Homo sapiens: one gene and its partners. The protein of the gene in region 1 purifies or fractionates together with the protein of each later gene. This does not show direct contact. Each region holds a gene or a part of one and is shown in the gene's direction. Other genes may lie near its edges.

Evidence for each region.
Region 2: the proteins of MOB4 (region 1) and SLMAP purify together in Homo sapiens (affinity purification with mass spectrometry; 3 studies listed by BioGRID and IntAct, with this or other methods). This does not show direct contact.
Region 3: the proteins of MOB4 (region 1) and STK24 purify together in Homo sapiens (affinity purification with mass spectrometry; 4 studies listed by BioGRID and IntAct, with this or other methods). This does not show direct contact.
Region 4: the proteins of MOB4 (region 1) and PPP2CB purify together in Homo sapiens (affinity purification with mass spectrometry; 6 studies listed by BioGRID and IntAct, with this or other methods). This does not show direct contact.

The regions. Positions count from the first base shown.
Region 1 is NC_000002.12:197,517,985-197,526,460, forward strand, and holds part of MOB4 (MOB-like protein phocein), read left to right. Parts: intron 1-5,639; coding exon 5,640-5,702; intron 5,703-8,476. Other genes in the region: HSPE1-MOB4 protein, read left to right, coding at 5,640-5,702.
Region 2 is NC_000003.12:57,856,561-57,865,036, forward strand, and holds part of SLMAP (sarcolemmal membrane-associated protein), read left to right. Parts: intron 1-1,172; coding exon 1,173-1,268; intron 1,269-1,527; coding exon 1,528-1,599; intron 1,600-4,138; coding exon 4,139-4,279; intron 4,280-5,388; coding exon 5,389-5,526; intron 5,527-7,987; coding exon 7,988-8,156; intron 8,157-8,246; coding exon 8,247-8,297; intron 8,298-8,476. UniProt on the Homo sapiens protein: Associates with the striatin-interacting phosphatase and kinase (STRIPAK) core complex, forming the extended (SIKE1:SLMAP)STRIPAK complex.
Region 3 is NC_000013.11:98,443,817-98,448,715, reverse strand, and holds the end of STK24 (serine/threonine-protein kinase 24 isoform b precursor), read left to right. Parts: 3' UTR 1-398; coding exon of another isoform or gene 399-480; 3' UTR 481-1,898; coding exon of another isoform or gene 1,899-2,050; 3' UTR 2,051-2,510; coding exon of another isoform or gene 2,511-2,618; 3' UTR 2,619-3,531; downstream 3,532-4,899. Other genes in the region: FARP1 (FERM, ARHGEF and pleckstrin domain-containing protein 1), read right to left, coding at 399-480, 1,899-2,050, 2,511-2,618. UniProt on the Homo sapiens protein: Serine/threonine-protein kinase that acts on both serine and threonine residues and promotes apoptosis in response to stress stimuli and caspase activation.
Region 4 is NC_000008.11:30,801,806-30,810,281, reverse strand, and holds part of PPP2CB (serine/threonine-protein phosphatase 2A catalytic subunit beta isoform), read left to right. Parts: intron 1-8,476.

The DNA.
Region 1 (8,476 bases):
CAAAAAATTAGCTGGGCGTGGTGGCGGGCGCCTGTAATCCCAGCCACTCGGTAGGCTGAGGCAGGAGAATCGCTTGAACCCGGGAGGCGGAGGTTGCAGTGAGCCGGAATCGCGCCATTGCACTCCAGCCTGGGTAACAAGAGCAAAACTCGGTCTCAAACAAACAAACAAAAAACTATAGGAGAGTAGGTGGAGTATCTTCCTACATTAAAAAAAAAGTTGGTTAGACTGGAATATAGGCACATAGTTGGTTTTCTTTTTTCTTTTTCTTTCTTTCTTTCTTTTTTTTGTTTTTTTCTTGAGACAGAGTTTCTCTCTTGTTGCCCCCAAGCTGGAGTGCAATGGTGCGATCTCGGCTCACTGCAACCTCCACCTCCCGAGTTCAAGCGATTCTTCTGCCTCAGCCTCCCGAGTAGCTGGGATTACAGGCGCGTGCCACCACGCCCAGCTAATTTTTTGCAGAAACTGGGTTTCACCATGTTAACCAGGCTGGTCTCGAACTCCTGACCTCAGGTGATCTGCCCGCCTGGGCCTCCCAAAATGGTGGGATTACAGGCGTGAGCCATTGCACCTGGAGGTTTTTTTTTTTTGTGTGTGAGGCAGAGTCTCGTTCTGTCGCCCAGGCTAGAGTGCAGTGGCACGATCGCAGCTCACTGCAGTCGCTGCCTCCCAAGTTCAAGTGATTCTCCTGCCTCAGCCTCCTGAGTAGCTGGGATTGCAGGTGCCTGCCACCACGCCCGGCTAATTTTATTTTTATTTTTATTTTTATTTATTTTATTTTATTTTTTGAGACAAGAGTCTCACTCTGTCGCCCAGCCTGGAGTGCAGTGGCACGATCTTGGCTCACTGCAAGTTCCACGTCCCGGGTTCACGCTGTTCTTCTGCCTCGGCCTCCCGAGTAGCTGGGACTACAGGCGCTAACCACCACGTCTGACTAATTTTTTTTTGTATTTTTAGTAGAGATGGGGTTTCACTGTGTTAGCCAGGATGGTCTGGATCTCCTGATCTCGTGATCCGCCCGTCTCGGCCTCTGAAAGTGCTGGGATTACAGGCATGAGCCACTGCGCCCAGCCAATTTTTTTTGTATTTTTAGTAGAGATGGGGTTTCAGCGTGTTAGCCAGGTTGGTCTCGAACTCCTGACCTCAAGTGATCTTCCCGCCTCAGCCTCCCAAAGTGCTGGGATTACAGGCGCAAGCCACCACGCTGGGCTTCATAGTTGGTTTTCAATAAATGTTTGTTGGTTGAATTAGATGAGAATCTTTATTAAGCTGAATTTTTGGTGTCTCTCATAGGCATCTAAAATATGTCACAGTTATGAGAAGGCGAAACATTTCATTCTCAACATCTTTTCTATATATAGTCATCATTGGTGTCCTCTGGGGATTGGCTCCAGGATAACTCCGTACCCCCACCCCATACCAAAATCTGAGGATGCTTAAGTTTCTTAAGTAAAATGGCATAGTGTTTGCATATAACCTATGCACATTCTGTTATATAGTTTAAATCAACTCTAGATTACTTAATAATACCTAATGCAATGCGTGTTCTGTAAATAGTTGTTATACTGTATTTAGGGAATAATGACCAAAAAGAAAGCCGGTACATGTTTAGTACATACGCAACTATCTTAGACCTAACTAGGTACATAGTACATGTCAGCAACAATATAACATTTTCTGTATTTTTTTTCTCCCCTGAAATGAATATTTTCAATTCCTGGTTGATTGAATCTGCAGATTAAACCTGCAGATATGGAGGGCCAACTGTACATGTGTTTTCTAATATTTTAAAAACAACATTCTGTAAACTTCCTTAGTTTTTTTAAAAAGGAAAGAATAGACAGAGTATTGGTAGAAACTTTAGATCATATAGGAAAAATTTTAGAATTGCTCTTTAATAGATAATGTCTAAGAAAAGGAATCCTGGAACCATTTCTAGAAGATTGTTTTATTTCTTGATATTTTCCTTTAATAAAATTAGTTCATTTTCATCCAGATAGGCCAGCTATTTCAAAAAAGATGAAATGTTTAAGACACTTAAAAAGGTGTACTCATTACCTACTGTCCAAACGGGGACATTGCTACTATAGTTGAATCCTTATGGAAGACATTCTCTGTCTTCTACCCTATCATTCCTTTTCTTTTCTGTATACTTTTACTATATATGCATTATATCCATAAGTATGCCTTGCACTTAAACTTTTTTTTTTTTTTTTGAGACAGAATCTCGCTCTGTCTCCCAGGCTGGAGTGCAGTGCTGCACTCTCGGCTCACTGCAAACTCCGCTTCCTGGGTTTGCGCCCACCACCACGCCTGGCTAATTTTTTGTATTTTTTCATAGAGATGGGGTTTCACCGTGTTAGCCAGGATGGTCTCGATCTGCTGACCTCATGATCCGCCTGCCTCGGCCTCCCAAAGTGCTGAGCGTGAGCCACCGCGCCCGGCCTAAACTTTATTCATTTTATATACACTGTGTTTACTTCTAATTTGCTTTTTTTGCTCAAGGTTTTGAAGACTTAATCTTTGTTGATTGTTTTTACAGGTTTATATACAGGTTTATAGATTATTGGTTTACTCTTACCTCCTCCCCACCAAGTTTTACCTCAGAGACATTTGAGCTTCAAAGATGTGTCAGGCATTGTGCTACCCACTGAGGTTACATAGGTAAACTTTTCTGAAAAATCAGTCAAATGGAAAGGTTCTTAATCACTTAGGGGAATATCTGTTAACTGTATTATCTACAGAGAATTCCAGAACCAGGGCAAGATGCTCTATAAAAATATCCCCCTTAAGCTGGGCATGGTGGCTCATGCTTGTAATGCCAGCACTTTGGGAGGCTGAGGCTGGAGGATTGTTTGTGACCAGGAGTTTGAGACCAACCTGGCCAACAAAGTGAGACCTCGTCTCTTAAAAAAAAAAAAAAAAAAAAAAAAGAAGAAGAAATAAAAATATTCCCTTTAACAGAAAGCTGGTTTATTTGATGTTTCCTTCTCTTTTTAAAATTTTTGTGGGTATATAGTAGGTGTATATATTTGTAGGTTACATGAGATATTTTGATACAAGCATGCAGTGTATAATAATCACATCAGGGGGGTAAATGGGGTATCCATCACCATAAACATTTGTATCGGGGAACCTGCCCCGATAGTCACGTAGGTTCTTTTCTATTTTCCCTAAGCATCAGCCAGTTTGAGAAATGAAGGGACAGAGTACAAAAGAGAGAAATTTTAAAGTTGGGCGTCCGGGGGAGACATCACATGTCGGTGGGTACCGTGATGCCCCACAAGCTGCAAAACCGGCAAGTTTTTATTAGGGACTTTCAAAAGGGGAGGGAGTGTACAAATAGGGTGTGGGTCACAAAGATCACGTACTTCACAAGGTAATAGAATATCACAAGGGAAATGGAGGCAGGGCGAGATCACAGGACCACAGGACCAGAGCAAAATTAAAATTGCTAATGAAGTTTCGGGCACCATTGTCATTGATAACATCTTATCAGGAGACAGGGTTTTGAGAGCAACCGGTCTGACCAAAATTTATTAGGTGGGAATTTCCTCTTCCTAATAAGCCTGGGAGCACTATGGGAGACTGGGGTTTATTTCACCCCTACAGTTTCGACCATAGAAGACGGCCATACCCAAGGGGGCCGTCTATAGACCCACCCCCAGGCGTGTATTCTCTTTCCCAGGGATGTTCCTTGCTGAGAAAAAGAATTCAGCGATATTTCTCCCATTTGCTTTTGAAAGAAGAGAAATATGGCTCTGTTCCGCCCGGCTCACCAGTGGTCAGAGTTTAAGGTTATCTCTCTTATTCCCTGAACAATTGCTGTTATCCTGTTCTTTTTCCAAGGTGCCCAGATTTCATATTGTTCAAACACACATGCTCTACAGTTTGTGCAGTTAACACAATTATCACAGGGTCCTGAGGTGACATACCTCCTCCTCAGCTGACAGGATTAAGAGATTAAAGACAGGCCTAGGAAATCACAAGGTATTGATTGGGGAAGTGATAAGTGTCCATGAAATCTTCACAATTTGTGTTTAGAGACTGCAGTAAAGACAGGCATAGGAAATTATAAAAGTATTAATTTGGAGAACTAATAAATGTCCATGAAATCTTCACAATCCACATTCTTCTGCCGTGGTTTCAGCCGGTCCCTCAGTTTGGGGTCCCTGACTTCCTGCAACACATTTGTCCTTTATGTTGCAAAAAATTAGATTCTTTTAGTTTTTTTTAAATGTACAATTAAATTGGTTTTTACTATAGTCACCCTATTGTGCTAGCAAATACTAGGTCTTATTCATTCTTTCTATTTTTTTTGTACCCATGGGTGATTACCTTTTTTTTTTTTTTTTTTTTTTTTTGAGATGGAGTCTTGCTCTGTCACCCAGGCTGGAGTGCAGTGGCGTGATCTTGAGTCACCACAGCTTCCGCCTCCTGGGTTCAAGCAATTCTCCTGCCTCAGCCTCCTGAGTAGCTGGGATTACAGGCGCACGCCACCATGCCCGGCTATTTTTTGTATTTTTAGTAGAGACGGGGTTTCATCATGTTGGCCAGGCTGGTCTCGAACTCCTGACCTCAAGTGATCCTTCCGCCTCGGCCTCCCAAAGTGGTAGGGTTACTGGTGTAAGCCACCATGCCCAGTCTGATGATTACTTTTTAATGGTGCCCATATTTTGATTTAGAAATTCAAAACTCTATTTGGAATGAGAATAATAATTTATAATTTCTTTTTAAAATAATACTTATGGGTCGATCATGGTGGCTCACGCCTGTAATCCCAGCACTTTGGGAGTCTGAAGTAGGCGGATCACGAGATCAAGAGATTGAGACCATCCTGGCCAACATGGTGAAACCCTGTCTCTACAAAAAATACAAAAATTAGCTGGGTGTGGTGGTGCGTGCCTGTAGTCCCAGCTACTCGGGAGGCTGAGGCAGGAGAATCACTTGAACCCAGGAGGTGGAGGTTGCAGTGAGCTGAGATCGCACCACTGCACTCCAGCCTGGCGACAGAGTGGTCTCAAAATAATAATAATAATATTAATAATAATAATTATGGAGCAGTAAATTAGCTACTAATGCTAGATATTCTCTTTTGGTAAAAATCTGATTTACTTTTTGGTGTCTGGAGTTTTTTTTTCATTGTAACTTTTTGAGAGATATTTAACCATCATAAAAAAGTGATAGACTTGTCTCCCCAATTAAGTAATACATTAAAGGTTTATGGGAGCTGTATTTGAGGAATCTGTGATTGGAAAAAACGTAATTTATAGTTCAATTAAATAAAATCTTAATATTCATTTAAAAAACATTAAACAGCCAGGCGCAGTGGGTCAGGACTATAATCCTAAGAATAGGGTGGCTAAGGTGAGAGGCTGAGGTGGGATGATTGCTTACACCCAGGAGTTTGAGGCTGTAGTGAGCTATGATTGTGCCACTGCACACAAGCATGGGCTGCAGAGTGAGACCCTGTCTGTAAAAAAGAAAAGTTGAATAAAATTTATTTCCTTATTTCACTGATAATTACATTGCAAAAGTTTTTTCTTCCCCTCTAGTGTGAGCTTTGGGTCTTTATTAAGAATTGAAGTTAATCATAATAGTATTTTGTATGTGCTTTAACCGTGAATTTATTTTTATAGGATTTCTATAATTGGCCTGATGAATCCTTTGATGAAATGGACAGTACACTAGCTGTTCAACAGGTAATAAAAATAGTTTCTTTTCACCCTGTGTCTTTTGGAGTACGATGTGTAAGTGCCCATTGGGTGGCCTTTGTCTGTTGGTCACTGTGCAGCAGTCTGCTTCCCAATAAAGCGTGCTCTTTCACAAAACAAAACAAAATAGTTCCTTTTACAACTCCAATAACCTAAGCATTTTACCTCTGACATAGTTAAGTATTCTTATATCTTTTCGCATAGAGAAGATTCCACTGAATTAATGGAATGCCTATTTAAAAGTTTAGTCAACCCTCATTTTGTTTTAAGATGGCATATTAAGCTGGGCACTGTGGCTGCCAGCACTTTGGGAGGCCAATCACTTGAGGCCAGGAGTTCAAGACCAGCCTGAGCGACATAACAAGACCCTGTTTCTACGAAAAGATAAATTAGCCAGGCATGGTGGCACACACCTGTAGTCCCAGTAGCTAGGGAGTCTGAGGTGGGGAGATCACTTGATCCTACTTCAAGGGTCTAATGAGCTATGATTGTGCCACTGTACTTCAACCTGGGTGACAGAGTGAGATCTTGTATCTTAAAAAAATAAAAATAGCCCAGGTGTGGTGGCTCACAGCTGTAATCCCAGCATTTTGGGAAGCCGAGGCAGGTGGATCACTAGGTCAGGATATCAAGACCATCCTGGCCAACATGGTGAAACCCTGTCTCTACTAAAAACATAAAAAATTAGCCAGACATGGTGGCATGTGCCTGTAGTCCCAGCTACTCGGGAGGGCTAAGGCAGGAGAATCGTTTAAACCCAAGAGGCGGAGGTTGCAGTGAGCCAAGATCATGCCACTGCACTCCAGCCTGGCCAAAAGCAAGACTCTGTCTCAAAAAAAAAAAAAAAAACAAAAACAAAAACAAAAATACAATTTCATTAAGGGGCTAATAAAAAGATAATATAAATTGGAGCGTACTAGTATATTGGATTAGGCATTGGTTAAATTTTTTTTGTTTTGAATTTTTAGTAGAGACAGGGTTTTGCGATGCTGCCCACCTTGAACTCCTGGGCTCAAGCAGTCCACCCACCATGGCCTCCCAAAGTGCTGGGATTGCAAGTATGAGTCACTGCACCTGTCTTTTTTTTTTTTAGACGGGGTCTCACCCTGTTGCCCAGGCTGGAGTGCAGTGGCTCAAGCATGGCAAAATGTAGCCTCAACTTCCTGGGCTCAGGTGATTGTTCTACCTCAGCCTCCCAAGTAGCTGGGACTATAGGCGCACACTGCCACATCTGGCTGATTTTTTGTAGAGATGGGGTTTCACCATGTTGCCCTGGCTGATGATAACATTTTTAAAGGGAAAATATACCATAAATCGAGGCTGTTTGGCTTCATTTTGATAGCCAGATAATAAAAGTAGATAGCTGGCCGGGTGCGGTGGCTCACGCCTGTAATCCCAGCACATTGGGAGGCCAAGGCGAGCGGATCACCAGGTCAGGAGATCGAGACCATCCTGGCTAACATGGTGAAACCCCATCTCTTACTAAAAATATAAAAAAATTAGCCGGGCGTGGTGGTGGGTGCCTGTAGTCCCAGCTACTCGGGGGCTGAGGCAGGAGAATGATGTGAACCTGGGAGGCAGTGAGCCTGCAGTGAGCCGAGATCGTGCCACTGCACTCCAGCTTGGGGGACAGAGCAAGACTCCATCTCAAAAAAAAAAAAAAGTAGACAGCTATTCGGATTTGTTATGTTATTTGAAGATCTTAGAAAATAAAAGAGACATATAGTTGAATTATTTGAGCATTAAAAACCACCCATCTGGGTGTGGGGGCTCACACCTGTAATCTTAGTACTTTGGGAGGCCGAGGAGGGAGGATCACTTTGAGGTTGGGAGTTTGAAACCAGCCTGGACAATATAGTGAGACCCTGTCTCTGTAAAAAATAAAAAGGTTGGGCTAGGTGGCGTGCACCTGTAGTCCTAGCTACTTAGGAGGCTGAGGTGGGAGGAAAGGGTTTATGGTGAGCTGTGATTGCACCACTGCACTCCAGGCTGGTGACAGAGACCCTATCTCAAAAAAAAAAAAAAAAAAGAAAAAGTGCTGTTCAATCAGCAAATATTTATTGGCTTCTCACGATATAGCTAGCAATGAGTTAGGCCTTGTGGAAGATAAAGGAATATAAACCTAGATCTAGCTCTATGCCTAGAAATTGGTTAAATTTTGAAGAAAAATGTACAGATGGTTATCTCTTTAAAAATAGGGGGAAGTGTCCTGTTTGTTGAATTTGTTCATTTATTCTCACAGGTTTTTTGGATGTGAAATCATTAGGGTTTTCTACATACGAGACCCATGTCATATAATTTTACTTCTCCAATCTAGATCTGTTTTCTTTCTTTTTCTTGCCTAATTGCTCTGGCTAGACCTTCCAGTACTACTTTGAATAAAAGTGGTGAAAAAGGGCATCTTTGTCTTCTTCCTGATCTTAGAGGAGAGCTTTTAGTTTTTCACTGTTGAGTATGATGTTCACTATGGATTTTTCATATATGGTCTTTATTATATTGAAGTTGTTTCCTTTATTCGTAGGTCATTCAGTGCTTTTTAGATCATAAAATGGTGTTAAATTTTGTCAAATGCTTTTTCTGCACCTATTGAGATGATCATGTGTTTCTTTTTCTTACTTTTTTTATTTTTTTATTTTTTTGAGACAGTCTCGCTCTGTCACCAGGCTGGAGTGCAGTGGCGTGACCTCAACTCACTGCAGCCTCTGCCACCTGGGTTCAAGCGATTGTCCTGCCTCAGCCTCCTGAATAGCTGGGATTACAGG
Region 2 (8,476 bases), on another chromosome or scaffold:
TCTTCAGGGGCAGTAACATGCATGGAGCTGTCATCTCCTGTGATAACAGTGCCTTCTTCTGGATACCTCCTAAAGGACCTCTCTGAAGGTATTTTACAGTTAATGTTTTTTTCTTTTTAATAAGCAGAAGGAATGCACTCTATAATTAACAATAAAAAGTATAGTACATGCATAAACTGATAAAGTCATATAATACTATTATGTATTATGTACTATATATAATTATATGTGCTATACTTTTATATAACTGGCAGCACAGTAGGTTTGTTTACACCAACATCTCCTCAAACACGTGAGTAATGCCCCCTTGTGTTACAATGTTAGGATGGCTATGATGTCATTAAGCGATAGAAATTTTTCAGCTTCATTGTAATTTTTGGGGACTACTGTGTATATGCAGTCTATAGTTGACTGAAATGTTGTTTTGTGGTGCATGACTGTGTATGTGTGTATGCATAGATATATGTCTACATACACACAGTGTGTATGTATGTGTGTGTGTGTATAAAATGCAAACCTGAAACATTTGTTAGCTTTTTCTATTGTATGTTTTTAAAAACTTGCTCTTCCAAATTATGAATAAAAAGAAAACAAAAAACAGGTGACTTGTTTTCTATTATGGGAGAAGTTGCAGTTAGAGAACCTCTAATAGCAGTACTTTCAGCCCAACAAATGAGACTAAAATGATGTGGCCCATATACATGGAGTAGCCATTTCCTATCTGCAGGGAATATGTTCCATGACCCCCAGTAGATGCCTGAAATCACAGATAGTACCAAACCCTATATCTACTATGTTTTTTCCTATATATACACATACCTATGATAAAGTTTGACTTATAAATTAAGCATAGTAAGAAATTAACAATAATAATAAAATAGAACAATTACAACAGTATACTGTTATGTGAATAAAAGTTATGTGAATGTCAACATTCTGTCTGTCTCTCTCAAAATATCTTGTACTGCACTATAACTGAAACTGTGGAAAGGGAAACCAGAGATAAGCGGGGACTGCTGTATGTTTTACAAAGTACTATCAAGTTTCACTACTTTAAAATACATCAAGTGGGATGTAATATGAAAATATTTTAGAATATGCTGAAAATTGATCACTCCTCAAAAGAATCATGATGAGCTTATTAGAATCTGTTTTGTGATTTGTAATACTAGGAGGCCTTACATCGGGAACAAATGTTGGAACAGAAGTTAGCCACGCTTCAGCGGCTACTAGCCATCACCCAAGAGGCTTCAGATACCAGTTGGCAGGTATTCCAGTTGTTTTATATTTAAGAAACATTTAAACATAGTTTAATATTCCATACATGTTAAATAAACTAAAATGTAGCAAACAAAGACAAAGTTATTTCCTAACTAATGAACAAGTTGTTGAAGATTTAGCATTTTACAGTGGATGCTGGTCAGTTTTACGCTTTTATATCTTTTGTTGTCAGTAGCAACCTTTTTTTATATACATGTGACTTTATAATTACTCGGGTTTTACTTACATTTAATTTTTCTTCAATAGGCTTTAATAGATGAAGATAGACTCTTATCACGGTTAGAAGTTATGGGAAACCAATTACAGGCATGCTCCAAAGTAGGTATTAACCTCAAATGTGTAAAATGAAATGCATAGTTTTTTATGTAACATCATTTCTTTGACTATCATTTTGAGTATATGCTAAAAACTTCATACATTTCCACAATTCTTTTAAATCTTTTGTGCTGAGAAACGTCAGACATCCATGTAAATAAAAATAATTACATAATGAATACCCATGTACAAGTCTGTCTTTTTTCTATTGCAGTTAATATTTCTTGAAAAAACTGGGTCATTTGTCCTCTAGAATTTCCCTCAGTCTGCATTGTTATTTAAACATTTTTTAGCTCCCCCTCCCACTCCATAAAGTAGTAGTTCCATCTAGAGATTTGATGTGATTTAGGTTCAGTTTTTCTTTTTGTCAACAACACTTTATGGATGGTATTGTGTTCTTCCACCAAGGGACAACATAATGTCTAGTTGTCTTTCTTTTTGAGATTTTTATCAATCATTGATGATCCCAGGCTAGATCCATTATTTCATTACGGTTACAAATAAGGCTGGGCGCAGTGGCTCACACCTATAATCCCAGCACTTTGGGAGGATGAGGCGGGCGAATCACCTGAGCTCGAGAGTTCAAGACCAGTCCAACCGACATGGAGAAATCCCATCACTACTAAAAATACAAAATTAGCCGGGCATGGTGGCACATGCCTGTAATCCCAGCTACTCAGAAGGCTGAGACAGGAGAATCCCTTGAACCCAGGAGGCAGAGGTTGCAGTGAGCCAAGATCGTGCCATTGCAATGTAGCCTGGGCAACAAGAGTGAAACTCTGTCTCAACAACAACAACAACAACAAAAAAGTTACAAAAATAATGATGTAATTCTGTTATTCCTTCACTTATTTAGCTGGGTTACTTCTATAAAGAGAAGTTTCCTTCCATACACAGTGGCTCATGCCTGTAATCCTAGCACTTTGGGAGGCCAAGGCAGGCGGATTGCTTGAGGTCAGGAGTTCAAAACCAGCGTGGCCAACATGGCGAAACCCCGTCTCTACTAAAAGTACAAAAATTAGCTGGACATGGTGGCATGTACCTGTAATCCAAGCTACTCAAGAGGCTGAGACAGAATTGCTTAAACCCGGTGGGGGTGGAGGTTGCAGTGAGCCAAGATCGCACCTCTGAACTCCAGCCTGGGCGACAGAGCGAGACTGTCTCAAAAAAAAAAAAAAAAAAAGCGGGGGCAGTTTGAGACCAGTATGGGCAACATGGCAAAACCCAGTATCTACCAAAAATTAAAGATTTGCTTAGCATAGTGGTACATAACCTGTAGTCCTAGCTACTCGGGAGGCTTAGGTGGAAGGATCGCTTGAGCCCAGGAGTTTGTGATTACAGTGAGTTATGATCGCAGAACTGCGCTCCAGCCTTGGTGACAAAGAGAGACCCTGTCTCTAAAAAAACGAAAAAAGGAAAAACAATGGCCATTGTTTTTTGTAACTTTGGCATCAAAAACCAAATACCACATGTTCTCATTTATAAGTGGAAGCTAAGCTATAGGTATGTAAAGGCATAAAGAGTGCTATAATGGACATTGGAGACTCAGAAGTTGGGAAAGTGAGAGGGGAGTGAGGGATGAAAAACTCCCTATTGAATACAATATACACTACTCAGGTAATGAGTGCACTAAAACCCCAGACATCACCACTACATAATTCATCCATGTAACCAAAAACCACTTGTATCTCTAAAGGTATTGGAATAAAAAAATTTAAATAACCCTGAGGTATGTTTTCTACGGGGAAAGCAAGATAAGTGATTTTCTCCCCTTATTTATTAGATTTCAGAATAATGAATTGGTGGTTTTTCATCTACCAAAGACTGGCCATGAAGTGTTTTCTCACTCCACTTAGATTTAAACATATTTGATGTATTTAAATCTGGTGCAGTTGTTTTTCTTGTTTTAGAGACAGGGTCTTGCTATGTTGCCCAGGCTGGTCTTGAACTCCTGGGCTCACGCAATCCTCCCATCTCGGCCTCCCAAAGTGCCACGGCCAGCCTATTTTTCTTATTGATGCTCAAATTATCCCATCTTTGGTCTGTGTAAATGTCTTCAGAGTGATAGCTTCATGCTGTCATTTCAGACAAGATGTTTCAGGCTCATTTTGTACTTTTCCTGCCCCAGACATGAAGTCTGCTTTTCCCCCATGGTACTCTTATTCCTTTTGTTTTAACCATTGTTTCAGAATGCTTGGTGCCTTTGAAGGTAATTGATTATTTTTGCCTACAAATGTGAATATGGTGGCTTGCAGAAAATATGACAAATATAAAAGTAACTAATTTTGTATATTTTAGGGAAATTCTCAATTGCCTATAACTTTTTTTTTCTATAGGAAGTGGAAATTAGTAAGTTTGTGAAGGCATAATTTACTTATGCAACTTGTAAATACATCTTTAGTTAATACAGGGCCAGAATCATTTATGTTTGGAGGTACCTTAATATATAATTTAAAGTATATCATAATGTGTTAATTTTTTTCAAACAATAAATGCTTTTAAAAAATAACTTGTCTATAATTATAAATATCTTTTATTGTAGAATCAAACAGAAGATAGTTTACGAAAGGAACTTATAGCATTACAAGAGGATAAACATAACTATGAGACAACAGCCAAAGAGTCCCTGAGGCGGGTTCTTCAGGAGAAAATTGAAGTGGTTAGAAAACTTTCAGAAGTTGAGGTATTTCAATCAAAAAAAAAATACTAAATAGTATTATGAGTGTTCAAAAAAATCTCAAGCATTCCAGGATACTTTAAACTTGGGTATTATTATATAGTTAGGAAATACTTTCTGTCTGTCAGGTGGGAAGGAACAGTTACGCTGCTTTCATTGACAGCAATTCTCCATGTGAGTTTTGGTACTTACTCCCTAGTCAATGGCTGAGGAAATAAAAGCGTAACCAGGGAATCTTATTGTTTGCATTCTGCTTAGGATTCACCCTCCATACAGCAGACCATGATATGTGCTGGGGAATTGATTTCCTGTCACTTGGTTTTGCTTTGCTTCTATTTGAGGGGGGTCAGTGTAAGGCCAAGAGTCTACACTACTTGTTCTTTTTTAATTCACTCTGCAGAGAGGAAAACTAGCTGTGTCATATATTTAGGAAGTTCAAAGGTGAAATCATCTCCAAGGTCCTTTCTAGGTCTTGGAGGAGCAATCAAAATGCAATTTTTATTGCTTTGGGGAAAAAAATTCTAATTCATAATATAGATCTTTTCTTTGAACCACTGCAAAATTACCACATAAATAATGTATTACTAGAATTAGTTAAAATGCTCATCAGAAACTAAATGGTAAACATACCTTTCCTTACTACAGGTATAGTTTGTATTGCTACCTCATCCCATAGTGCCTGATTCACTGTTGTGTGATTAATTTGATATATAAAGAAAGTTACTAAGTGTCTTTTAATTTTTTATTAAATTGATTGCTGGATATTATTAAACTTGCTTTCAAGGATTGATAGGCTTAAAATATTTTCACAGCTAAAAGTCATACCCATTGGCCTTTCAAAAATGTAATTATATAAAGGCAGCATCCTTTTCCTGCCCCTGCTCTCCCTCCACTTTTATTTTTTTGTTGTTTTTGTTAATTCTTAGTTATGTTTTCTGTTTTAGTGTGAATTGAAATTCTTATGTTATTTGACTCAGCTTTATTTAAAGTCCAGGGCAGATGTTGATTTAGAATAGTCCATAGAATTATACTTTTTATAAATTTCATTTAGAAGGAATTCTAAATAACAAATATACACTTATTCTAATTAAATTGCCTGTAAACTTGAATCGCAGCGAAGTCTGAGTAATACTGAAGATGAATGTACCCATCTGAAAGAAATGAATGAAAGGACTCAGGAAGAATTAAGAGAATTAGCCAACAAATATAATGGAGCAGTTAATGAGATTAAAGATTTATCTGATAAATTAAAGGTATGTATTTACTCTGCCTGAAAGTATGTTAAGCTAATAATCCCTAACACACTAGATAGCTTAAGATTTTAGGTATTGCTTTAGCTGGGCGTGGGGTGGCGGGCGCCTGTAATCCCAGCTTCTCAGGAGGCTGAGGTAGGAGAATTGCTTGAACCCAGGAGACGGAGGTTGCAGCGAGCTGAGATCACGTCACTGCACTCCAGCCTGGGCGACAGAGCGATACTCCATCTCAAAGGAAAAACAAACAAACAAACAAACAAAAAACAGTTTGGGCCAGGCGCAGTGGCTCACGCCTGTAATCCCAGCACTTTGGGAGGCCGAGGCGGGCAGATCATGAGGTCAAGAGATTGAGACCATCCTGGCCAACATGGTGAAACCCCGTCTCTACTAAAAATACAAAAATTAGCTGGGCGTGGTGACACATGCCTGTAGTCCCAGCTCCTTGGGAGTCTAAGGCAGAAGAATCACTTGAACCCAGGAGGCAGAGGTTGCAGTGAGCCAAGATTGCACCACTGCACTCCAGCCTGGCGACAGAGCAAGACTTCGTCTCACAAAAAAAAAAAAAAAAAAAAAATTCAGTTTGAAAACCACTGGTATAGATAGATATTTTGAATTGATTTGCATAGTCTCCTTGAATGTGTTAAATTATGCTGAAAGTATGAAAGCAGGATGTAGGTGGTACTACATATTAAATAAGATTTCTATAAAAAAAGATTTTAGGTATTGCTGAATAGTTATTGATGTAAAAATTTGGTAACAGTTGAAATTTATAGTGAAAATAAGGTGTCTGTATTCCATTTAGCCCAACCTCCATTACTATAGATAATTGAAAGCCTGTAAATGCTGACATAGTTCCTCTGGATGAATATGTAGTCAGTGCTTCACAATAGACATTTCTAAAATATATAACAGGAAGTAGATGAGAATCAGCAAAACCCATGATATTCAGATGTTTTAAAACCTAAAACTGCTTATCATTAGGCCATCTAAAAGGCAGGGCCCAGCTATTTAGTGCTGTGCTGGAACAAGCCCAGAGAGAATCTGGGAATGATCTCCCTTTTAGCTTTCAGGGATGCTGTTAACTCTGCTTTAGCTGCCATTCCCTCTATCTATGAGACATCTAGGATAAGGACAGATCAGATCATAGGGTAATGATAGGGTAATGTCTAGTTGGTCCTTTAGAATCTTATAACTGAGGAAAAAAAAAATCTTATAACTGTTTGTGAAGGTCCATCTTGGTTTAATTCAAACTATGGATTGAGTGCCTAGAAGATATGTGTTTGTTAGAGAAGACCAGAGCATACCTCCGTTGGTTAACCTATGATAGTTTTCAAAGTTGGTCTTGTTAAAAGGAGATTGTCATTGTCCATTTTTGTTGCTATAAAGGAATAGCTGAGCCTGGGTAATTTATAAAGATAAGAGGTTTATTTGGCTCACAGTTCTGCAGGCTGAAGCTTCAGGCTGCTTCCACTGATGGCAGAAAGCAAAGTGGAGCTGGTACGTGTTCCATGGTGAGAGAGGGTCTGGGAGAGGTGCCAGGCTCTTTTTAAAAACCAGCTTTCATAGGACTAATAGAGTGAGAATTCACTCATTACCATGAGGACAGCACCAAGCCATTCATGAGGGATCTGCTCCCATAACCCAAACACCTCTCATTAGACCCCATCTCCAACACTGAGGATCAAATTTCAACATTGAGGCTTGGGGGACGAACATCCAAACTATAGGCAGAGAGGTCTTTTTGAATAGTGATTGTACTGTCATCTCGTTACTAAATAATTTTGTTTAAAATTTCAGAATGTTAACATGATAGAACTTCAAAATTGAAATGATAGTAATTTTAGGGAAAAATCTTACTTCCCTCTTTAAAAATACGATTTTTTTTTCCACATTGACCCTTTACCTCTGTGTGTACTGAGCCTACTTGCTTCCTCCAAGTTTCTCTCTCCTGGGTGTTATGGAGGAATAACCCAATGCAGATAATTTTTGACATCAAGCCTTTGTCTTTATCATCTTTACTGGTTTAGAAATGTCAGGTTAGCCGGGCGCAGTGGCTCATGCCTGTAATCCCAGCACTTTGGGAGGCCAAGGTGGGCTGATCATCTGAGGTCAGGCGTTCGAGACCAGCCTGACCAACATGGAGAAACCCCGTCTCTTCTAAAAATACAAAATTAGCTGGGTATGGTGGCGCATGCCTGTAATCCCAGCTACTTGGGAGGCTGAGGCAGGAGAATCACTCGAACCCGGGAGGCGGAGGTTGCCTAGGCAACAAGAGTGAAACTCCATCTCAAAAAAAAAAAGAAAGAAAGAAATGTCAGGTTTACAGATAATGTTCTGTAGAACATTTCTTTTCTACAGAACAAACTTTTCTTAGAAGTTTAAGTGAATAAAGGCATTCCTGGGGCTCGCTCTTAAAACAGAGTTAGGTTTGTTAAATAACTGAATTTTCTTATTTTTCTAGGTAGCAGAGGGAAAACAAGAGGAAATCCAACAGAAGGGACAGGCTGAGAAAAAAGAATTACAACATAAAATAGATGAAATGGAAGAAAAAGAACAGGAGCTCCAGGCAAAAATAGAAGCTTTGCAAGCTGATAATGATTTCACCAATGAAAGGCTAACAGCTTTACAAGGTAAGTAGCTAATCCAGAAATTGATTTTATTTTATTTTTTTTCTTGTTATCTGTGAAATATCTTTTTTTTTTTTGGACTTTTATTTACAGTACGGTTAGAACATCTTCAGGAGAAAACTCTTAAAGAATGCAGCAGCTTGGGTAGGTGGCATCCATATTTCTTACTTAAACCTGAATTTTATCCTTAAACTTTTGACCTTGTTTACTGTCTCACACTGCATTTTTTAAGGGATGTTTTATGTATTAGGTATAAAGTATCTATATTCTTTTAGAAAATTTTCTTTAAAAATATGCTTGATTGCCACCAGTGGGCACCATTG
Region 3 (4,899 bases), on another chromosome or scaffold:
TGCAGCAGCCAATAGGTGAAAATAATAAAAGAAAGAACTTTTTTTAGGAAGAAAAACACTTGCCCTGTCTTGTGTTGAACGGATGTGTGTGTACTGTTTTTCAGGGGCAGGGTGGAGGGAAGATGTCATTTGGCACTCTCGTAATGACAATGTTTTAATACTGGCACTAGCTAAAGAACAGCGCCCCCAGCGGATGCCAGGACTGGAGGTGGGAGCGCTGTTCATTCAGACGCTGAGAGGTCGGGGTTAAAAAACGCGGCTGTGGAGACAGGAGAGCTGCTGGGAAGCCATGTTTTTGATTTTCAGACAGGTGTTAATTTTACCAGGCTTCATTAATACAGAAGAAAGGAAACGTCTTCCAGGAAAGCAGCCACTGCGGAAACGAGTGTGTCCGGCCATCAATACACAAGAGACTCTTTGTGACTCAACACGTGGGGTCGCGAGGCAGAGCTGGTGGCACTGCGGATCACTTCCATCCACCTGCAACACGGGAACGCCAGTTAGTCAACCTTTTGTTTGGACGGACTCCTGACACTTTGGTGGGCATCGCTTACAGAAACACAAGGTGAAGTCAGGCCGCCTGGTTGGTAATCTGCCACTTCAGCAGAAGAGCAAGGGAACAGCCAGCACCCAGGCGTTCCTGAGGTACAGTGGAGACCCACTGGCCTGGGCACTCACTCAGTGTGGAGCTGGAAGTACCTTGCTGCAGTGACACTGCCCGCTCCATTGGAGCAGTTAGGAGCGAGGTGGCCTCTGGTTGCTGGGGAGAACGCTACCTCCTATTTTCATGGACATGGCAGAGAATGGCGGGACGTGTCCCATCCTGCTTAGTGGAAGCTCTCCCTTCCTTTTTTCTTTTTCTTTTTTTTTTGAGACAGGGTCTGGCTCTGTCACTCATACTGGAGTTCAGTGGTGCAGTTATCGCCCACTGTAGCTACCTCCTGGGCTCAATCGATCCTCCAGCCTTGGCCTCCCAGGAGATGGGACTACAGGCTTGCACCACCACGCCCAAATCTCCCTTTTTATATATTTGTGTATTTGCTCTCTACCGGTGCTTCTCAAATGGGTGCAATGCTGTCCCATTTGGTAAAGTCTGGAGACATTTTTAGATGTCCCAACTGAGGGGTTGCTGCGGGCATCTAGTGGGTGGCCAGGGATGCCGCTGAACATCCTGCACAATGCAGGACGGACTCCCCAAATTACCTGGCCTTGTCCCAGGCCTTTCAGGATCTGGACTGCAAGGCTGGACCCTTTGTCACAATAATAGCAAAATCCCAACTTTGATCAACCCAGCTCTCAACCCAGCTCTCGAGCTCAGTCCAGGATCAGATTTGAGAATGGCTCTCCTCTAGGTTCCTTTTTCAGGTGATGTTGTTTAGGAGGTGCTCAGCATATTGCTGAGGACCCCTCCCCTTCTGCCTCCCGGGGCGAGGAGGGCTCAGCAGGGCAAACTGCACAAGTAGTCGGCTTGGGGATGCAATTTGCAGAGGCCCAGGATCTCTATTCAAAATATGAATTGCAGGAACAGTCTTAGGCCTGACTGTTGCATTTCTTTCTTGGCTAAATGAAGTCTGCAGTCCCTGCCATTACACCATGTAGGCAGTCTCACTGGGGCTTAGCTTCATCATCCCGGACACGTTATGTCAGAGATCTCCAAGCAAGATGTCTAGGGCCTCAGCCAACACCGTGCAGGGTAAGGGCGCAGGGAAGTTGGGACCCCACTTTCTGCCATGAGAACAGAATCGCCTGCTGGTGTCGGGCAGTGGGACCCCAGGTCTAAACGCTTAGTTGGCAGGGAAGGGTGGGGCCATCTCACTCGCTGACTTGGGAGAAATCCTGATGTTTGGAAGAGGGGGTCCTCTTCTGCAGGGCCCTGTGCGTGGGAAGGGGGTGTCTACCTTTCGAACGTGTACTCGCTTTCCGCCCTGAAGTAGTAGACGTGGGACTTGAAGTGCAGCTTGAACACGTAGTCTTTCTGGATGTTCTCGGACTCAGAGGGGATGGTGAGCGAGTAGCCGAGCAGAGGCAGGCTGGCAAGGGGATGATTGTCCTGGAAAGGGGAAACAAAGCAAAGTGGCTTTTCGGGGTCAGCTTCTGCTGCTGGGCCTGGCTGCTGCCCCGCATCAGACAGGGACTTGGGAGCCCAGGCAGCTCCCTCCTCGGGCGTGGGCCTGGAAGGGACCATGGCAGCCAGTGTTTGCCTGTACGTGATGGCCCGGGTGGCAAGTCCCGCCAGGACTGAGCTGTAGATAAAGCCAACCCCCGTCCCTTGTCCAGGCAGAAGACAGGTGGCCCTTCCTAGGGCAGAAGTTGTCCTTCAGTGGATGATAATGTCAGTCTTCCCTAGAGTTGAGGGCCTCGGGTGGACAGGGCCCCCCGCCAGCATCCCTGTCATCCCCGTGACACCTGGAGCCCAAGAGGCCTGAGTCATTCCAGAGGAGGGCGGCCCCCTCACCTCATGCTGCCACCCCCAAGGTCCCAGGGCCACCTGCCCTGTGCGAGACACTTACCTGGTGTGATTTGTAGAAGAACAGGCAGAAGTTTGTGAACACCACCCACAGCTTCTGCCACCCGTTGCTGTTTTTGAATTTCCTCAGCAGGTTTCCAGACAACTGATTCTGAAAGGCAAGGAGGCCTGTGAGAAGCACAGCGGGCACCTGCCCCAGGAGGGCACAGAGAGCAGCTCTCCCTGCACCAGGGCCCTGGGCTGGGGCATGTCCGTGACTGAAGGATGTGGGCCCCACCCCCGCTCCCCCGTGTGTGGGGAGACTTGGCAGGTCCTGGGACCCTGATCTCATCACTTCCCCTTGTCACTTGCTGTGGGGCATCTTGGGGTCCCTGTGTCCCCCCAAAAGACACGTTGAGGTCCTGACTACCAGTACCTTAGAACACAGGCTTATTTGGAAATAGGCTCGTTGCAGGGTAACTAGTGAAGACGAGATCACACTGGGGTAGGGTGGGCCCTAAATCCAACGGGAGTGGTGTCCTGAGGAGAAGAGCCACCTTGAGGGGAGAGGGGTGTGCCCTGTGACACCGAGGCAGAAATGGGGGCGCAGGACCCCATGCATTGCCAGCAGGCGGAAGCTGAAGGAGGGAAAGATCCATCCCAACAAGCTCAGAGCAGCACTCGTTTTGAGGGGCCAGGCACCCTACCCAGGAAGTGGGGCCTGGGGTGCATGTGAGTGGCTCCCACATGCCCTCTAGTGGCCCAGGAGGCAGTTGCAGCCCTGCCCACCTCCAGGCTCAGGGCCGGCCCAGCCCCTGGAGCATTGTTAGGATGCGCTGCAGCCCAGCTAGGGGGCAGGGACAGGCACCTGTGTCCATGCTACCTCCAAACAACTCTGAGCAGGCCTGACGCACTGGTGGCTCATTTCGTCCCTTTGCCAAAGTGACATCACCAGCAGAGACTCAAAGCAGTTGCACCACCTTGTAAAGGCACTTAATGCCACTGAATTGTTCCCGTAAAAATCGTTAAGTTGGCCAATATTGTGGTATAGCTATTTTACCACAATAAAAAATACAGACCTCCGAGTCTGCCTCATTCCATCTCTCTGGGTGCCCCTGGCACTAAGCTTCTGTGCTGGGAGCTGGGATCAAATGGTCTGATGTCCCTGCCCTCCAGTTGCTCAGGGAGGGTCCAGTGGGAGACATGGACACTGACAGTAGGTCCGTGAGGGGCTGCAGGATGTGGGGGACCCCGCAGACGGGGAGAAAGGGCATTCCAGGCCAGGCAGGCAGCTCCAGCCATCCATCCTCCTCCCCCAGTGGCAGAAAGGAACAAGAAAATGCAAGGCTCCAGGTTCCCAGAAGGTCCTGGTGGTGGCCAGGGCTGGGCTGATGCCCATGCGGCATCTTGGGTCACGCAACATGGAGCAAGGAGGGTGGCACACTCCCCTTTCCTAGGTATTTTCATACTGACTCACATAATTTTCACACAGCAGCCAGCCCACAGTGGGGTTCATACATGTCACCCATCACAGTCTGGGCCCATTTGTTTCCAAAGCAGCTTCCTTAGCGCTCTCTAGCTTCTGCCTGGCCATTCCAATAGCCTCTGGAAACCTCTTTATCAATAGGCACATCCAGCGGCCCTTCCTCGCTCCCCACGGCCGGGCCGAGCCTCCCGCTCCCCTGTGTCGGGTCCATCCTGGCCTCCAGCGTGTTACGGGCCCTGCGCGCCATGAGTCTCCTGCCCTGCACTCAGGAGGCCGAGGCCATGCTGGTGGCTCCCAGACCTGTCTCCATTCACTGCCTTCACGAGAGGGTCAACATCCTTGTTCAGAACCAGACCAGCCTGCCCTGTCTCCTCGTGGCCCTTCATTGGGGCCACCGCTCCTCTCCCTTCTTGGATCCCATTCCCTCAGACCCTGCTGTGGGTTGAATTGCACCCCCAACAAGTCCAAACCCTCCGTGCCTACAATGGTGACCTCACATGGACACAGGGTCTCTGCAGATGCGATCGAGTCAAGGTAAGGTCACTAGGACGAGCCCTAAGCCCAGCACGAGCCGTGTCCTTAGAAGAGGATATTAGAGTGCAGATACAGGGAGGACAGCTGGTGACACGGCAGACCGGAGCCCTGCAACATGGGTGGAGTCGGGGACCCCCCGAGAAGAAGACTGCCGCAGCCACCAGATGCTGTCAGGTGGGGACATTTTCCCTCAAGGCCTCCCAAAGGAACCCACCTGCCAGCAGCTTGATTTTGGACTTCCGGCTTCCCGCACTGTGGGAGATGTTTCTGTGGCCTCACCCAGTCTGAGGTTGGTGCCGAGTGACGCCACGGGGAACAAATATAACCCCCGTGCCCGCCACTCCCTGGCCTCACTGTCCCTTCCCTCCTTCCGGTCCTGTCTGCACCCCGTCCCTTCCCTCCTCCCAGTCCTGTCTGCGCTCTGTCTGCTGAA
Region 4 (8,476 bases), on another chromosome or scaffold:
ATGGGGTTTTGCCATGCTGGCCAGGCTGGTCTAGAACTCCTGGCCTGAAGTGATCCCTCAGCCTTCCAAAGTGCTGGGATTACAGGCGCGAGCCTCGTGCACAGCCCCTATTGACTTTCTAATAATTTTAAGATGAACTTCTAGAGAAGAATATTGTACCACTGCTGTACTTTGAAATAATCACACCGGAGTGTCAACGATCACTTGAGGAAGCTTTCTGTATTTGTCAAAAGAGATTATTTTTACTTCGGCTCCTAAATAAATCAGACTAACAGTTCCTAGGACTTCACAGGTATATTTAAGATTATCTCTTGTATCTTACTAGCCTTTTTTGGGGGCGGGGGGGGGACGCAGTCTTGGTGTGTCAGTCAGGCTGGAGTGCAGTGGGGCAATCACCGCTCACTGCAACCTCAACTTCTGGGGCATAAGGGACCCTCCCACTTCAGCCTCTCAAGTAGCTGGGACCACAGGCATGTGTCACCACACCGGGATAATTTTTTTATTTTTTTTATGGGGTCTCACCGTGTTGCCCAGGCTGGTCTCGAACTCTCGGGCTCAAGTGATCCTCCCGCCTTGGCCTCCCAAAGTGCAGGGATTGCGGGAGTGAGCCACCACTCCTAGCCCATTTTTTTTTCTTTGAATATTTGTCCTTACCCACAAAGCATGAATTTGTTAGTGAAATTCATTCATCTTTGTTCTCTACCCCCATTGATGGAGTTGCCAATGGGTTGGAAAAGTGTGATAATACTCATTTCTCTCTACTCTTTTTGAGCCGTGCTTAGTTTTGCAGCCCTCTTCTGGCAGCTATGACCTAGCTTTGTGGTTTGTGTATGTATGAGTATATATACATATATATGTTTTCTGACCTTAGTTTCTAGTTCCGTTTTATATCCCTACCCCATCCTCCTTGTTGATACATAACAAGTGTAGCATTCATCCTGTCTGAGTTCCAGTCCTGCTTCACAGCTTGCTAGCTGTCAGTCTTTCTGCACCTCTGATTCCTTATGACAGAGATAATATGTACCAATCCTCCCGGGTTGGTTGTGAGTGCTAAGATATATATTCATTGGCCGGGCACAGTGGCTCACGCCTGTAATCCCAGCATTTTGGGAGGCCGATGCAGGTAGATCACTTGAGGCCAGGAGTTCAAGACCAGCCTGGCCAACATGGCAAAACTCTGCCTCTACTAAAAAAAAAAAAAAAAATTAGCTGGGCGTAGTGTTGCACTCCCAGCTACTTGGGAGGCTGAGACACAAGAATCCCTAGGAGGCAGAGGTTACAGTGAGCAGTGATCATACCGCTGCACTCCAGCCTGGGTGACAGAATGCAGTTTTCTCAAAAAAAAAAAAAAAAAAAAAAGGCCATGTAAAGTCCTAATGAGAAGTAAGCACGCAGTGAATGTTAACTAAAGGAAGGCTGAAAGTTTTAATCATAAGTGTCACCCATTTTCTTTTGTAAGAAATGCAAAATGAATAGATGTGCCAATATGCCTTTTCTTTGGTAAATATACTTCAAAGGAGTTTTTTTTATATAGTGGCTATAGAACCCTGAAAAGTAGTGGTGCCTGTTATGTGAACCACACAGTACTGGAATTAATAGCAGTTGTGTGAAGTATCTTTACTCCTGACTTGGTCTACTTAATACTTGCCCTACCTTTCTAGGGCAAGAGTAGCAGGCATGTAGAAAGAAAATATGAGAAAAATAAAGAGTCAAACCTAATTATATAAACTATCTTTAATCCTTGTGATTCAATTTTTGGGTTTTTTAAAAATACCTTTTTTTATTCTATTGGAAATACTATTCTATAGGAAGTTACATCGTATGATGGTGGTTTTTCCTTAAATTTCTATTCTAATTCAGATTGCCTAAAAACTGAAGGAGTCGGCTGGTCATGGTGGCTCACCCCTGTAATCCTAGCACTTTGGGAGGTCGAGGTGGGCGGATTGTCTGAGCTCAGGAGTTCGAGACCAGCACGGGCAACATGGTAAAACCCTATCTCTACTAAAATACAAAAAATTAGCCGGGCATGGCGGTGTGTGCCTGTAGTCCCAGCTACTCGGGAGGCTGAGGCAGGAGAATTGCTTGAACCCAGGAGGCAGAAGTTGCAGTGAGCCGAGATCGCCACTGCATTCCAGCCTGGGCGACAGAGTGAGACTCTGTCTCCAAAAAAAGAAAGCTGAAGGAGTCCACTGAAATCAAGACCAGAGTAGTACTAGTAAAGGCCTATTTTGAGGTAGTTGCAAAAATAAAATCTATCCTAGTGCCAGTGGGTGAATGACTACAAAAAATAAAGAGTATGAATGGTATGGTGTGTCTGGCTTCCAAGGTTAATTTCTGCCTAGTGAAAAATTGTTTGCATAAAATAGCAAGGCATGTCTTCTGAGAAGACTAGCTCTTAACACTAGCTTAAATTAGCAATCCAGCTTTTGAAGCTAATTGTGAATTTGACTCCTCTTGTGTGTGCAGAGAAATTGCTTCTGTGATTCATTCCTGCATCAGCAGTATGCAGTTATTTTAGAAGATTGTGTGCCAAGAGAGCCAGGCTGGCACTGCTCAGGACACTCTGTGACTAGAACTATATTTAACTGTTGTCTCAGAAAGAGTAAAAATTTTAAGCTCTTTGACCTGTTAAATTTTATAACTGAAGAACCTTGGTGATGATTCTTTAGGTGGGGAGGGAAATTCAGCCAATGTGTGTGCTGGCAGATCTTTATTCTGATGATTATAAAGTACGTATTGAGAAAAATGTCGAGGCTTGTGTAGAAGTATAAATATGTAAATTTTATATTGAACTGATGGAAATGTTTCTAAGTCCTGGCGTTAGCCTTGAAATAAGCAGAAATAACTTTAGGATATGACTTCATTCCTAATGTGAAATAGTATGCTTGTTCCTGAATACCCAAAACCATCTTAATGAAGATTAGATTCTGGTAAAAATGAGTGATTTTTGTGAATTGAGAAAATTTTTTTAGATTACTTTCTGTGATTGATTACAGCTTAAAAAATAAAAATAGTGGTCTTGACAGGCAAAATGCCTAACTGGTACTTCCATTTTTAATTTCCCTCGAACAAAAATTAGTGCCAGCTTTGGTGGTCCATTGATAAAATCTAAAATGCAGTGATAAAATAGCTCCTTTCTTAGTATAATGAAGAATGGCATGATTACAGTGAAATAGAGGGTCAAGACCCAATTCTAGTGACTGAACAAATCATTGTTTTCCTTGCTAAGCCAGCCTCTTAGTGGACAGGTAAAGAAATTAAACCAAACTAGACTAGCATGAACTATTGCTAATGGCGGGAAAGTGGACTTTGTTACATTTCTCTACTTTATATATGACGTGTCAAATATATATGACTAGGTAAATATATTTAATACTTAATACTGCCCTTTAACAATAATATACCCTTGCCATAAGATATTTACCTAAGTAGATAAAGTGAAGATATTTGCAATGTAAAATTTCTTTTCATTGCCTGCTTTTATTGCCGTGTGTGCCTTTTATTCTTATTTGAAGATCTTGCAGAAATTTTTTCTTCACAGTCTTTTCTCTTCAGTACGAATGTTATAAAAGACTTGGTGAATGAAGCCCTTCCTTGGTAAAAGGAAATGAAAATGCCAGAAATTGAAGATGGAATTAATGCTTAATTAATTTTCCTAGATTGTTTTCTGAATGTAGTTTTTTCTAAGAAGAATGATATTAAAGTTACAGAAGTAATCTGTATAAGAAATCTGAGTCTGTGTTAAATAGAAATTTTTTATTGTTTTGAACTGATTTCCTTCAAGTAAATGTAATGAAATGTAAACCTAATCCAGATTGTTTAAAGAAACTTGTATGAAGACATCTTTTCTTCCTTAATGACCAAATGTGATCTAATAGTTCCTGTACGTTACTTTTCAACTCTAAATTTCATTAATAATCATATTAACGGCCGGGCATGGTGGTTCGCGCCTGTAATCCCAGCACTTTGGGAGGCCAAGGCAGGCGGATCATGAGGTCAGGAGATCCAGACCATCCTGGCTAACATGGTGAAACCCCGTCTCCACTAAAAATACAAAAAAAAAAAAATCAGCCAGGCGTGGTGGCAGGCGCCTGTAGGCCCAGCTACTCGGGAGGCTGAGGCAAGAGGATGGCGTGAACCCAGGAGGCAGAGCTTGCAGTGAGCCGAGATCGCGCCACTGCATTCCAGCCTGGGTGACAGAGGGAGACTCCATCTCAAAAAAAAAAAAAAAAAAATCATATTAACCCTGGGAAGGAGTTCTGTGTATTACAGATTCCGTTTCCTTTCCAGAGAATGGGAGAGCTCAAGCACTCAAGCTTAGAACTGGTTTGCTGTTGTGTCCTTTGTAATTTAGAAATATTTATCATCATTCCTTGTAAACTGTTTTTTGACTGAGATACTTTTGTGATCAAATGAATTAAAAGACAATCCTGAGGTGCAACCTGAGATTCCTGACTTGCGTTATAATAGCATCATGTTACACCAAAAATGTGGAAGACTCCATTGGAGATCTATTAAGTGAATATTTTATACAAAGACAATCGTTTTTATGTTGAGACTGGGATACAGTGGTGAATTTAAGTGTTCTCACCTATTCAATCTTAGAAAAAAGCTTATTTGAATTAACTTTTTAGCATAGTTGGATTTTTTTTAATATGCAGGATACGGTGTGTAGGCTGTAGTTTAATTTTGCTCAAAATCTCTTTTTTTTTGTTTTTTTGTGATGGAGTCTCTCTCTCTGTCATCCAGGCTGGAGTGCAGTGGTGCCATCTCGGTTCACTGCAAGCTCCGCCTACCGGGTTCATGCCATTCACCTGCCCCAGCCTCCCGAGTAGCTGGGACTACAGGTGCCTGCCACCACTCCCGGCTAATTTTTTGTGTTTTTAATAGAGATGGAGTTTCACCATGTGAGCCAGGATGGTCTCGGATCTCCTGACCTTGTGACCTGCCTGCCTCAGCCTCCCAAAGTGCTGGGATTGCAGGCGTGAGCCACTGCGCCCAGCTCAAAATCCCATCTTATAGAGAGGGAAATAATTTTCATCTTCGTTTAAAAGAGTTCCGCATGATATTTATGTCCTGGATGATGAGAGCTCAGAATTGGTTCAGTGTATTCTCGACTTGGCTTGAGTAGCAAAAGAGGCGCTTGTTCCTGTGGGCAGTGAAGAAGAAAGGAGAGGATTGGTTGACAGAATGCTGCCACTGTGTAGTTATCCCGTACATTCAACAGATTTTAGTTGAACCACTATGTACCAGACTGTTCAAAGTGCTAGAGATTCAGCTGTGAAGAGGGGACACGATTAATGAACACCAGGCATTGATTCTTGCTGGCAAGAAAAAGCAGAAGATGGGGACAGTGATGGGCTTGAATTCAAGAGACTCTTTTTTTTTTAATAGGGTGGTCATAGAAAACCTTCCAAATTCTTTATAATGTGGTTTACTTTTGTAATTAAAAAGGATTTTGCGAGAGTTAGAAGGCACAGTCCCTAACACTGTTCTCACCTCTGACACCATCTTCAAAAGTTTAGTCATGATGTACCTTCAGAACAGCAGACAAAAAATAAAGTTCAGTGAACTATAAATTACAGGGAACACTGCCCAGGACTGCCTCAGTTTTGGCACCAATATACTAGTTCAGTGGGTTCCGAAAACCACTCTTAGGTTCAGTGATTCACAGGAATGACTCACAGAACTCACTTTAAGCTGTTACACTGATGATTATGGTTTATTACAGGGAATGAATACAATTTAAAGTAAGCCAAGGGAAAAGACTCATAAGGGCAGAGTACAAGAGGGGCTGACATCTGTAGTGTCCAGTCCTCCAGAGACCAAACTGATAGTGGGATCATCCAAAGTCCGCATCGTGAGTCACATTGTTAATGGTCCGCAGGTCAGAGCCCCCAGGCAGAGATCTCTTTACCAAGCAGGAAATTCCAGGGGCAAAGGCCAGACCTCTCCTCGGGTGAGGTTAATTCTTCACTATACAGATTTTTATTCCATAGCAAATTCTGAGGGACGAGAACCTTAATAATAATAAATGGCAATACCAAAATACATGAAGAAAACAAGGCTAGATTTATCAGAATTGTGGAGTGTGTGCAATGTGAGGGATTTTTCCAGTTGAGTTGGCATATTCTTTTTTTGTTTTAAGTTTGTATTTTGTCAACTGGGCACAGTGGCTTATGCCTGTAATCTCAGCACTTTAGGAGGCCGAGGCGGGCGGATCACGAGGTCAGGGGTTTGAGACCAGTCTGGCCAACGTGGTGAAACCCCATCTCTACTAAAAATACAGAAATTAGCTGGGTGTGGTGGCACGCGCCTGTAATCCCAGCTACTTGGGAGGCTAAGGCAGGAGAATCACTTGAATCCAGGAGGCGGAGGTTGCAGTGAGCTGAGATGGAGATCGCGCCACTGCACTCCAGCCTGGACGACAGAGCAGGACTCCGTCTCAAAAAAAAAAAAAAATTGTATTTTGTCTTTTCTTGGTTGTATAAATTCTCCAAAAGTTAGCCATTTAAAAATGTTTAAGGTCTTATTTTCTACTTTGTGATATGTGTGTATAATTTTTACTGTGCAAGTTTTAGCATTTTTGTATAGTCTGATTGTCCATCTTTTCCATAAACTTTAAGCGCACATGAGAATCACTTGGGAAAGAAATAGGAAATTCATGTTCCTTGACTCCATTCCAGAGACTGATTGACATGTCTTGGGCAGGTCCAGGAAGCTGCTTTTTTTTTTTTTAAAGGCAGGATCTTACTGTCGCCTAGGCTGGAGTACAGTAACATGATCATAGTTCACTGCAGCCTTGTACTCCTGGACTCAAGCCATCTTCACGCCTCAGTCTCCTGAGTAGCTGAGACTACAGGAATACACAACCACACCTGGCTTTTTTTACTCATTTTTTTGTAGAGACAGGGTCTCCTCATGTTGTCCAAGGTGATCTTGAACTCCTGGACTCAAGTGATCCTTCTGCCTCGGCCTCCAAAAGTGCTGGGATTACAGGTGTGAGCCACTGCCCCCGGCCTCCTTTGTGCTTTCAGTGTCATGAAATACCTGTATTTGTCAAGAAGATTAAGACCATGTCTTAAAAAAAAACAAAAGCTAGTGAGATACAAGAGATAATCTTAAATATACCTATAAAGTCCTAGGAACTGTTCGTCTGATTTATTTAGGAGCCGAAGTAAAAGTGATCTTTCCTGACAAATACAGAAAGAGATTTTTGCTAGCATCACTTCTTCCAAAACAATTTTCCTCATTTATGCAATAAGTTTGGATTTTCACTTCTTTATGTCACTAAGTTTCTGCGTGTTGCTAAGTTCCTGGCTGCATATTTGGAGTCTCTCCAACAGCAGCATTGTCAGCATTCCCACAGTCGGTTCTTCCGTGTACTTTTGATTTGAATTTCATTTCCAGGGTTATGTCTTGTGTGTTTGGCTTCTCTCTTTTAGCATAATATATCCAAGATTCCTCCATATTGTAGCATGTATCTGGACTTCGTTCCTTTTTATGGCTGAATAAAATTCCATTGTGTGGATATTTTATAATTACTGCCATCTGGAATTTGTTTTGAAGTTTAAGAAGCCAGGTTTTTTCCGTTTGAAAAAGTAATACAGAATTTGTTTTTTAAAATTTCGAGCATTGGCCAGTCACGGTGGCTCAGACCTGCAATCTCAGCACTTTAGGAGGCTGAGTGGGAGGACTGCTTGAGCCCAGGAGTTTGAGGCTGCAGTGAGCTACGTTCACACCACTGCACTCCAGCCTGGGCAACAGAGCGAGACCCTGTCTCAAAGAAAATTTGTGCAAGCACCTCAGAAAGGTAGCAAGGAAAGCAAATGCACTCTACCCACCATTCCTGTCCCCTGCCCTCCTACCTCCCAGACAACCATTATGTTTCTGTATATAATCTCCTCAGCCATGTTCTTCATATGCAAAAAATATGTGGTGTGCAGAATGTTTGTGGTGTATTGGGAGCTGTTTTGTGGAATAAACTTGGCTTCTGGTAAAATTATTGTTTAATTTGTGATCTCAGGAAAAGAAACTGAAGGGTATAAAGGCCTTAAGATTACACAATTAGATTAAAACTGAAGAGAACCCATGTTTTCTGGAAGACTTCATTGCATATAATCTCATTCTAATTAATTACAAGCAAGGAGAAGAAAGTATGGGCTACATTGTCCATAACTCTTGGGAATCCTACCAGGCTATAAGCAGAAAAGGCATTTGTAGAAGAATACATGGTAGCCTAGAATCAAAAGAAAAGCTGGAGAACCAAGCATGAGCATTTTGCAGAAATTAAGGGAGGTTAGAGGTGCAGTCAGAATCATACCTTAGAAATGATTTAGAACACTAGAGAGAACACTTCTGTTGGAATAGAACTTGCCATTGTCCCTGCTCTTTAGAGTTGCTTCAAATTAAGAGTCTGGGCTGGGCGCATCTAGTTGGCATAAAGTAATCTGGGGCTAGAGTAACTTTGTGATTC